2 separate regions of the Homo sapiens genome follow, and region 2 is linked to region 1. Evidence: fine-mapped expression QTL. A gene starts in region 1. The other region holds a variant in brackets. All regions are shown on one strand. Distances are from middle to middle.

Region 1 (5,373 bases):
TTTAAGATGCAGTTCAGCCATCACTTTCTTCAGAAGCCTTTCCTGATCTCCCAGCCTAGATAACTGTTGCCCCTGGGCTCCCACAATTTCCTGCACCTCCCTTTCTCAAAGGACTGATCACAGGCCTGAAAGCCACAGAAATAGTGGTCTCCAAAGCTGAGTGCACAAGATTATCACACTATGGTTGCAAAGAAACTGTTATAACTTCTATTTCTATTTTTTAAAAATCTTACCTTATTCTGAAGCTAGACTGCCTGCTTTTTTAGCCACGTGCCGTTAGCATGTTATTTAACCTCTCTATACCATAGTTTCCTTTTCTGTAATATGGGATAGTGTTAGACTCTCCCTCAAAGGGTTTTGGATGTATTAAATGAGTTAATACATATAAAGCACTGAGAGAAGGACCTAATAATGCATTGCAAATGTTCAAGGAAAGTTAGCTATTACAGGCACATCATTTATAAGTAAATAAATACACATATGTTGGGAGTGTGTGCTCAACTCAAAAACTCAAAAAGGCTTCACTTATGGGAGCGCTCTATTGGGAAAGTTTAGAGATCAGGCCCTGGGGTCAGAGACCAGGTTTGCTTCATCTCTGCATCCTTAGAGCCTAGTGTCTGCCCAAATCAGAGAGAGTCCTGGTAGACAAATGCAGACAGAACGCTTGCAAACCAAATCCTGATGGGTGCTGAACCAGAGAGAACCTGGAACAGGTTCAGGCTCTGTTGCTTATTTCTACACGGCACTAAAGGGCAGTTGGCCTCTTGAGGACTTCGTTAGTTTTTTCTCTTCTGTAGAATGCCAGGCTTTAATTAGACAAAGGCTAAGGGAAACCATAGAATAATTCGAGGCTGTATTGAGGGCGAGGCGCGCCCTCTTGTGTCCTAATGATGTCCTCTCCTCTCTCTGCACACTCGCCTCCCTTCTTCCTCTTAGGGCAGATGATGCTGAAGTGGACACGTCCTTACCTGACCCTGCAAAGCTGCCTCTCCAGCTTCAGATCCTGACACTCTCTCAAATGTTTCCGGCTCCCTTGGCACCCCACACTGTTGCACTGTCCCTCCCCATCTCAAACCCTCCTACTTCCACATATGGTCTCTTCCTCATGCAGTGTAGGACCTTTGGAGTCACATGCCTAGGGGGTGACAAATCGCAGCCCTGGTTCTTATTGGCTCTGTGATCTTGAGTAGGTCACTTCGTTTCTCTAAGTCTCATTCCCTCTTTGTAAAGTGGAGCAAACAATACCAATCTCATAGGGCTACTGTGAGACTTCAACACCAAGGAGTATTTACGGGTTGTTATTATGTTTACTGAGTAAAATCACATGAGTTATTACTACAAATAAGTTGGAACATGTTTCACAGAGAAGGAATTTAAACTGGGTCGTTAAAGCTAAGAATTCTCCTATTTTAACACTAGCCAACATGCATTGAGCTCTTACCAGATGCTAGGTATTGTCAATTTTCCCTAAGCCGCATAACCATTGGTAATAATAATAATAGCTAATGATTATGTATATTATTGTATTTTCTATTTTTTAAAATAGAGACGAGGTCTCACTTCGCTGCCCAGGCTGGTCTCAAACTCCTGGACTAAAGCGATCCTTCCGTCTCAGCCTCCCAGAGGGCTGGGATTACAGGCATGAGCCTCCGTGCCTGGACTAGCTAATGATTATTAAACACTTTCTGTGTGTCAGACATGTGTCACGCTCTTTACATACCTTCTCCCATTTATTCCTCTCAACAACTGTCTCAGGAAGAGGCAAGTATTATCATTCCCATTTTACAGCTGGGAAAATGCAGGCATAAAGAAGCTAAGTAATTTGCCCAAGGTTTCACAACGCGGGTGGTATGACCTGCATCCTTCATTTGAAAGTAAGAACTTTCAGACACAAGCAGCTTGACTTCAGAGACTTTTACCTAAATAGTCTCATTTAACCTTCATAACACCCTGTGATGTAAGTTCTCTTACATTACTTGCATTTTATAGATGAAAATTCCAAAGACAAAATAGATGGCAGTAATTTGTTCAAGGCCACACAGCTGCGAAGTAGTTGAGTTGGGATTTGGATCCATGTCTGACTACAAAGCCCCCATTCTCAACACCACATTAGATTGTTCATGCCCCAAAGTATTCACAGTGGTACAGAGCACCCGCATTTATATGAGGATTATTTTGTAATAATGATTAACATTCTTCCAACACCTAGGAAGTGCCAAGCTCTGTACTAACTGATTTACATAATAATAGCTAACAATCGCTGTGCATTATTAGGAGCCAGGCCCTGAGCTAATCGTTTTAGGTGTATTATCTCATTGAAAGTTCACAAAACTCTGTGACATGGATGCCATTACTACCCTCATTTTATGGTTGAAGAGAACGAGGTTCAGAATTCTTCCAAAGTCACACAGCTTAGCTGTAAGCTGGAAATTAAAGCTACAACTGTCCAGTTCTCTCCTGCCTATCGGGCTGGTCACCTCTAGTCATTCTCTCTTCTTATTTCTTATTGTGTCTGCTTTGATCTTTCAGGGTCTGAGGCTCTCACTTCGACCCCTCAGTAGAACTGGGCCCCCTTCTGCTCGAGTGCCCTCCCATTGGGCGGTGCTGTTATCCGGAAGCCTATGGAAAAGGCCAGGATCGCAACAGGTCCCGCCCCCATGTGTCGCGCCCGTTCCGATTTGTTCCAGTGCCAGGGTCCGTTAGAAGATGACATATCTATTGGCTGAAGACGTCTGAAAGGCAGCAAACGGAGGGGGCCGCCCCCGGCGCTCGCGCGGTTCCTTCTGGGAATTGTGGTCTCAGACGTTCCATTCCCAGGGTGGCGCCGCTCGGACTCCGCGTCCCAGCATTCCCCGCACGAGCCCGGGAGCACTTCCGCCCTGTTGTGAAGTGGGTGTCTCGGTGGGTGAGTCCGGGTGGCGGGGCGGGGGCAGCTGAGACGCAGGCTCTGGGCTGGAGACTTAGGAGGTGGTGGTGACACAGGGGGCTGGGGAAGGTGAGAGGGGAGAAAGAAGCTTATATGTGGGGGTGGAGGGTGAGGGACGGTCAAAGGATGTAGAGGCCGGAGATGGGAAGGGTCATACAGGGGTCGGGGATGAGGAGGCGATAGAGGGCCCTGGGAATGAGGAGGGCCTTAGAAGGGTCTGAAGGTGAGGGGGTTGAGGGAGGTTTTGGAGGTGGGAGAGTCATAGAAAGGTCTGGAGACCACAGAGGAAAGGATAGAGGGTCTGGGGCCCTGGCAAGAAGTGAAGAGGGCCTGAGCTTGAAGCCCGACCTTAAAAATAGTGTTTCAATCTCTACCTTCCCATCTAGAACAAGCATATCTAATTTGTTACCTCCCTAATGATTGTTACCTCTGGAACCCAGTGGATGGGACTGGCTATTGTGTTCTGCCCCAAACCTGCACTTCTTTCCTTATGTCTTATGGAAGTCAGTGGCACGATCATCCCATTTACCTACCTACCTACCTACTTACCCACTGATTCCTCTTGCATTCTTCCACGTCCAAGGATCTTCCGATCTTTAATTTCTTTAATATCTTTTCAGTCGGCCTCTTTCTTGTAGGGTTTTCGCAGAAGCCTTTTCAGTTTCCCAGCATGAACACACACATTGCACCTAGTGTGATCTGTTTCACCTACAAATCTGATTATGCCTTCTGCTTGAAAACTTTCATTGGCACCCAGCACCTGTAAAGTCCAAACACCTTGTCCTTCATAAACTCCTTTTGCAGCCTAATCTTCATGCACCTCACACTCCAGGGCTGTCAAGGTTTTCCTCGTTTCCTGGGTAGGCCATTTGGTTTTCCATCATTATATATGCTGTTCTCTCAGCTTAGAATATTCTCTCCTTGCCCTTCACCTTCTTTGCCAAGAGAACTTCTTTAACTTAAAAAAATTTCAACTCTTACTTTGCTCAATTCCCTTAAGCAAATTAAGTCACCCCCAACCCTCAGCTCCCATAACTTCTCCTATTACCACATTTGATCATAATTATCTGTGAAGTGTGTGTCTCTTCCATTAGACTGTGAACATCTCCAGGACAGGAACAGTGTCTCAATCACCTCTGTTTCCCCATTGCCCAGTCTAGAGCAGTAAACACTTGATGTAAAGCAGTAAATACTTGATGTATGTATGTGTGAATGAAGACCATGCAGGGTAAGCTTTGCTATACCAGCCTTGAAGACTTCTATTGCCAGTGGATTTCCAGGGCAGGAGCTTTAGTCTTCCTCTGCCTGGCAAGGCTATCTGCTGGAAGCTGAAGCTGATTCATTGCCAATGGGAGTTTAAGCCAGGGGTGACAAATACATGGAATGTGTGCTGCCAGTGCCCCTTCCTGTGTCCCTGGCAGTCATGGCTAATTGGTTGGTTCTCAGCACATATTCACACTGTACTCAGAGCCCTCAGCACACTACTCTAGGCAGCCACTTCCAGTTGATTGAAGTTTCTGCTTTAAATGAAACCTATTTGCTCTCCCTGGCTTAAGCCCTTATGTGTGAGGTCAGGTCAGACTGCTTTAAGCCATAGCTTGGACTGTCAGCCAAATGGGCCTGACAGCCTTTAAGAGTTCCCAGTTTTTTCTCTTTGGAGGTCACAGACCAGTCTTGGCCTTTCCTGTGGAACTGGAGAGCATCTTCTCTTCCCTTTTCACTGAGTGGGCTCCTCATGACCACGTTCATACTTACTGCCCTAGGAGTCAAGATGCCCCTCAGCTTCCCTGTGTTTGTAAAGACATCTTGATTTTGATGGCAGTCAGCACTTATCCCTCATGACCTGGGAGGCTCTGTACTCTTTCTAGGTCTTTCTGGATATTGGAAGAGAGCTTTGAGATCACTTAGCTGAATCTAAGTGGCAAAGCGACAGCCCATGCTGAATGAAGTCCACCATCATGCTTTATTTAATCTCATAGTGTGTGAAAAAATTTTGAGTTGGTTACCAACATTTAAAAATCCAGAGTGCTAGTTTCTTTTGGAAAAATCAGCAGGCTTAGGAATATTCTGGGCATATGTTCCCCTGGCACTCTATAGTTGGCTGTAGTGCCCACCCAGTTCATTTCAGTCATTGACTCATTTACATTGCTAGGTCCTTATACCCATTTAAACTTGTAGCCACTGACTCTAGTCTCCCTTCTCCCTTGCTCTACCCCATCATACTAATTGGGGAACCTAGGGCAACTGCTGAGTAAGATCAGGCTGTAAGCTGCAGCCTAGCTAGGCAGCCACAGGGGCTACATAACTTGTCCAAAGTAACACAGCTGATTAGTGGCAGGAGTGGAACTAGAACCCCAGTCTGCTCACTCCTGCCTTAATGTTCTTTCCATTCTCCCGTACTGTCATCTTAAGAGTTTGGATGACTAGCACACATAGAGGAGGCTATA
Region 2 (5,373 bases), 27 kb after region 1:
GTCAACTCCCTCCCAGTTTACCTTTTCTGGCCCACGTTATCTCTGCGGGGCAGGGGTCATGGGATGAACCCTGGATAGAAGTCAGCAGATGTCAGTAACTGCAGTAATACAGTGATATTGTCTAGTAATGTGAGCTGAGAGGAAGGATCCTGAGGTGAGGGAGAGGGAGGGAATTCCAGGGAAAGGCACTGTTGTGTGGAATAGCATGGATTCAGGGTGGGGTTGTATGATGGGAGGTTGGGAACAGGGAGCTGATATTAGAGGAGTGCTGGAGCAAGGTCACTGAGGACCTCACATGTGAATGGAGTGTCAACACCAGGCCCGGGGCAATGTTCAGATGTGCATGGTTGAAATCTGACAGCTGAATGGAACTTGGACATGCTGCAATTAGGATGGCCTTTTGGGACACTGTTGTGGTATTTCAGCTAAAGGCTAGGGTCTGAACTAGAGCAGTGGTGACACTGAGGAGGAGGGAATGAATGGGAAAGGTCTCAGAGGCAGAGGGGAGGACATCAGAGGAAAGCTAGAATGCCTTTGGTGACTGGGTAGAGCATGTCCTCATTCAGAATTGGGAGCACAAGGAGGAGAGGCTGATAGAGCAGGAGGGCAGAAGATGAGAAGTTTAGTTTGGTATGTCTAGAACTTGAGGTGCTTAAGGGAAATCATGGTGATGCTATGCATTTGGATGTCGGCTAGCAGCTAGGGGAGAGGCTAGGACTAGAGATCTGTGTATGCGAAGTAGTTAAACTAATGAGAAAGGAAGAATTTCAGTTTCAAATATTGGGCCTAGGACAGAGCTACTTGATAGTGCTGAATGGAGAGGAAGATGGCCCTCAAAGGAGATCTAGACCATTCCCCACTCCCACCCACTACCATCATGTTCTGGACCCTGTCTTCTTTGTTACTGACCCCTGAATTCTTCATGTAGCCCTGAGTTTTCTGGAGCCCTCACTGTGGAAGTCAAGCTGAGCTCTGTGTGGATGTGAGGTGGTAGTCCTCTCTCCACTTGGTCACCCTTTCCCCTGGGTTTGGTAGTGTGTTAGTGTCTCATATCTTTAGTGAACAGTTTTGATGTTTATTATCTGCCATTCTTGTCTCATGAATCTTAATAGAGGTTCAGTCATGAAAGCAAGGCCAGTGTGGGCCAGGTGAGAAAATGGCCCAGGTGGTCCCTTCCTCCTTGTCTACCTGACTTCCTTTGGAAGAAGCACTCTTTCAGGGGGCTTCAGTGTTCCAGGCTTGCTGTCTACCCAAGAGCTTGCTGGGCACCCAGGCGCCCTCCAGTAGGTCTGTGCTGCTCAGATAAACTGACATCTGGTTTTACACACCCTGAGCTTTGCTAGCGTGATTCTGCTCTTGGGAAGTAGATTCACTCTGCAGAATGGGTGGACAGTTTCTCAGCCTTCCTGGCCACAGGTCAGACCCTGGTTATGGAAAACCAAACCAGCAAATGCTGCCCTGGGAGGGTGTTACATCATGTGAGCTGCTAAAGGCAGGATCGTCTCCCCAGATGGCTGCCTCCCCTTGATTTCTTCACCCTCCACCTCAAGAAGGGCATTGGCTCCTCTGAAGGGACAAAAAGGTACCTAAAGGACCTTAGGCCTCCCATTCCTCAGACCCCCAGAGGCAGCAGACCCAAAGGTAGGGGCAGGGAAAGGAGGGGCCAAGACTTTTTCAGATACTCGGTTTTTTCTAAGGCCTTGACCTCAGCAGCTGAACTCATGGTCATGGCTGCCTTGGCCTTATTGTCCACTGTAGCCTCCTCCCAGAAGCCGAGTAAAGCAGCTAGGGTCCCTCCATGCTAAATAATGTAGTCAGGCGCTCTGGGTAGTCCGTCCTGCCTCATCTTGTTCTGGGGCCCCCAGTGGGGATAGCTCTCTGCTTTCGGGCTGCAGAAAAGAATTGAGTCACTTTCTGTAGGGGAGTAACACCCTTTGGGGACAGGGGTGCAGTTTTGAAGTAATGAAGGCAGTGATGTCTGGAGTGGGTGTGGGTGTTGCAGGTGAACTTGCCTCACCCAGGCTGTTCTGGGTCTTTGTACTCCAGAGTTCTGTCCTAGGCTTGCTTCTTCATTCACTCTGTTTCCCTTTCTCTTCTTTTTTTCTTTTCCTTTCTTTCTCTCTTTTCTTCTGTGTAGATGCTAATGACTTCCAGATCTGTGTCCTGCTGTGGCCTCTCCTCTTAGGATCCCAGCTGCCTGCCAACCAGCTGTGCTTGGGTGACTCCTGGGCATCTCAAAGCCCCGGTGTCTACCATCACCCATCATGGGGCTCTTGGCCTGCCCATTCAGCACGTGCATTGATGTACACACTCAGTGACTCCCATCCAAGCCTCCCCTGCACGTGCCTGGAGAGACCTGCCCATTGGACTCATCTTGGACTCAGTTCTGCCAATACTTTCTCCCTTCTAAGAGCATTTCCAGTTGGGCTGGAGTTACCCAGCTGCCTGAGAGGTCTCTTTCTGAATGAAGTCAATATCTAAAGTCAAAATTAATCATTCAAAATATTCCCTTACCCCATTTTTTTTGGGGGGGAGATGGGGGTCTTGTGTTGCCCAGGCTGGTCTTGAACTCCTGGCCTCAAGCGATCCTCCCACCTCAGCCTCCCAAAGCTCCCCTTAACCTCAGTTTTGATCCCATCCTCCATTTGGGCATTGCTCAGCTCCCCCACCTGTTAATAGCAAACACCAATCTCAAGCCCCTGCCCCAATCTGCTACAAGGGGTTAGTGTTCCATGCAGTGGGAGTGCAGGGAAGGCTTTACAGGAGAGGAGGGAGTTGAAATGGGCCTGGAGGCCTGGGATGGTAGACACTGGATCCTTTTCCCCCACAGCTCCTGGCTGTTTCTTCACACTCCCAGCATCACTATTACTGCTAGCATGTCTTTAGCATCATTTTGCCCTCCCTCTGACTTTCAGCAAGCCTGCACTTACCTCCAAATAAATGCATGTTTTCGGGGGGCAAAGGCAGGTTCCTTCCTTACCTTATTGTTGCTTCCCCCACCCCATGCTGCAGCTGAGTGGGTGACCTTTCTCCTCACCTCCGTGTGCCGCATCTCTCACCTAGTCTCTGTTAGGAACCCTACAGGAGCCTGCACCCCAGTAACCCCATTTTATGCTGCTTGGAGGAAGAGACAGAGAGTTTGAGAG[GTCCCAGT/G]TCTTTTCAGTGTGTGTTTGGTTCCCCCACTTCTCAAAGCTGAGAGCTTCTTTGTTTTAAGAGCCACTTGGTTAAGTCAAGAGCATTAGAAGAGTAAAAAGAAGAATACAATTAGATAATTTTACCTAAACATGCTATAGTCGACTAGGGAGTCACATAGACATTGATTTTCTAATGAGGGCGCTGTTGGTGATTCTTTTTGTGTGTAAAGATGCTTCTGATCATGCCTGCTATTACATGATACTTATTTCTAAAGTCACTTTTTTTTTTTTTTTTACATTTTCATTGTAGAAAAATATCCCATAAAAATTGTGCCCCCTAGAGGGCGAGGGCCACGGGAAGGGGGATCAGGAAAACAAGAATCAGTCTCTAAGCTGGTCCTGGAGCAGCATGACAGATGTATCTGAGCCCAAGCAGGAGAGGAGCCACAGGCCCAGGCTGGCAGAGTTGTGACTACTAGAATCTCGAGTCACTGGGGCTCAGGGAGCCCTAACTTGGTGGCAGGTGACAAATGTGGCACAAAGGAGAAAGGAGTCTTCTCCTTCCACATAGAACACACTTGGCTTCAGTGCTTTGGGGGGATTCGTGGACCACAGAGAAGCTTCCGCATATTTATAGGCACTGGGGACCAGCAGGAAGTGGTGGTGAGACACTTTGAAACCCTCCACTGCAGACTTCACCCAGGGGGCAAGGCAGGAGAGAATCCCTCTGTGGACAGCACTTGAGAGGAAAGGGCTTGTTCATGACCACGTATGAGGTCGCCAACCCAACCCTGTTCCTGAAGTTTCCCAGAAATAGATGGAGAGGTAAGGCCAGCTAGGCTGGAGCGCCAGCATCAGTAGTAGGGGCAGGAGCTCACGCTAAACCCGGTTGGTGTGTCCTGGAGAAGCACAGGTGTCATCTCCAGGGACCTTTCTCGACCAACTAATTTATGGAAATGAGACATTTGTAATTGATTTTAATTCCCTCTTAGGGACTGTGAAATTAAAATGGATTAAATTTTGTCCATCAGGAGCCTCAGGGATTTAATGTCCAATTCTAAAACCTGAACAGGCCCTTTTGTTTTGCAATTTGTGGACCAATCCCTGGCTTCATTTTATTTGGCTTTGCTTTCACTTCCCCATTTTCTGTTATTTTTTTTTTTTTTGTGCTGTTATGTACATCTCTTAAAGCTGGTCAAATCATATTTTGGGATGGAATGGCCTGATAAGTTAATAAATTATATTAAACTGCCAAAAAAGGAATGTGTTTTCGATTCTTCTGGCTTCTTCCTGGTTACACCAAAAGCATGGGGGAGAAAAGGAAGGGAAGTCATCGAGACACAGGTTGTCAGGGAGATTGGGGCCAAGGTCTCAAGCCCCTTGTGCTGGGCAGGTGTCTTCTTTTCATTGTTCCCTGTGGTCCTTCAGACATGGGTGGCTCTTCAGGCATGTCCACAACCCCAGGAGCCATGGCCTCAGTGGCCGGTGCAACTGGCCGGAGCCACAGTGGCTCCGGGTGTCGGGGCTGTCCTTTTGTCCCTTTGATCTTACGCAGGGTGAGGGAGCCAATCACGAGAGGCTCACCCCTGACGTCACCCAGTCCCCAGGGCCAGTGAGGGCCCTGCGTTCCATGGGGCCCCCTGGAGGGAGGAGTGGCATCTCAGTCTGCTGGTCCCTATGCATCTACTTTGATATGTCCCTCAGGATCCCTGTGCTAGGAAACCAGAGGTGTCTGAAATCCAAATAACACAAGGATAATTATGGATGAAAACATAGGAAAGAGTTCCCAGGGGGCTGAAACTTACCTGATTCCTCTCATTTGCTTCCTGGTTCAGGAACAGAACTGATCGCACTTCGTACTTGAGAAAGAGGGGAGAGCTGGAGCGTCTTTATATTCTTTTCTGGCCTTCCTCCACCCATTGTCCTACTGAGGACATTCAAAAGACTGTAGCTCAAGGCTGAAGTTTCCTAATACACGCTCACTCTTTTGTCCTTATTGAATGAGATATAGGCAACTTTGCCTTTTAGGCCCTTGATATGGTTTGGCTGTGTCTGCACCCAAATCTCATCTTGAATTGTAGTTCCCATAATCTCCATGTGTTGTGGAAGGGACCTGGTGGGAGGTACCTGAATCATGGGGGCAGTTACCCCTATGCTGATCTTGTGATAGTGAGTGAGTTCTCATGAGATCTGATGGTTTTATAAGTGATTTTTCCCCACTTTGCTCTGCACTTCTTTC

Direction of the effects. Alleles are on the strand shown, and positions count from the first base shown. SD is a standard deviation of normalised expression in the study named.
In carriers of allele GTCCCAGT in region 2, the expression in skeletal muscle of the gene that starts at base 2,859 in region 1 tends to be higher than with G alone (small effect, 0.19 SD a copy in GTEx).

The links. PIP is the estimated chance that this variant, and not a neighbour inherited with it, causes the effect. A credible set is the group of variants that fine-mapping cannot tell apart.
Region 2: its variant is the best candidate, but not a certain one, in a credible set for the expression of ZSCAN20 in skeletal muscle (GTEx, PIP 0.57).

Annotation. Positions count from the first base shown.
Region 1 is chr1:33,469,787-33,475,159 of GRCh38, forward strand. ZSCAN20 (zinc finger and SCAN domain containing 20) reads left to right here and starts at 2,859. Exons shown (of 8, transcript NM_001377376.1): 1 at 2,859-2,905. RefSeq lists a silencer at 822-1,116.
Region 2 is chr1:33,497,251-33,502,623 of GRCh38, forward strand. It overlaps ZSCAN20 (zinc finger and SCAN domain containing 20), which reads left to right. Exons shown (of 8, transcript NM_001377376.1): 8 at 1-4,393. Among named protein-coding and RNA genes, the nearest start is that of ZSCAN20, 27 kb to the left of the region's middle. The variant GTCCCAGT/G (reference allele first, on the strand shown) is at 3,147.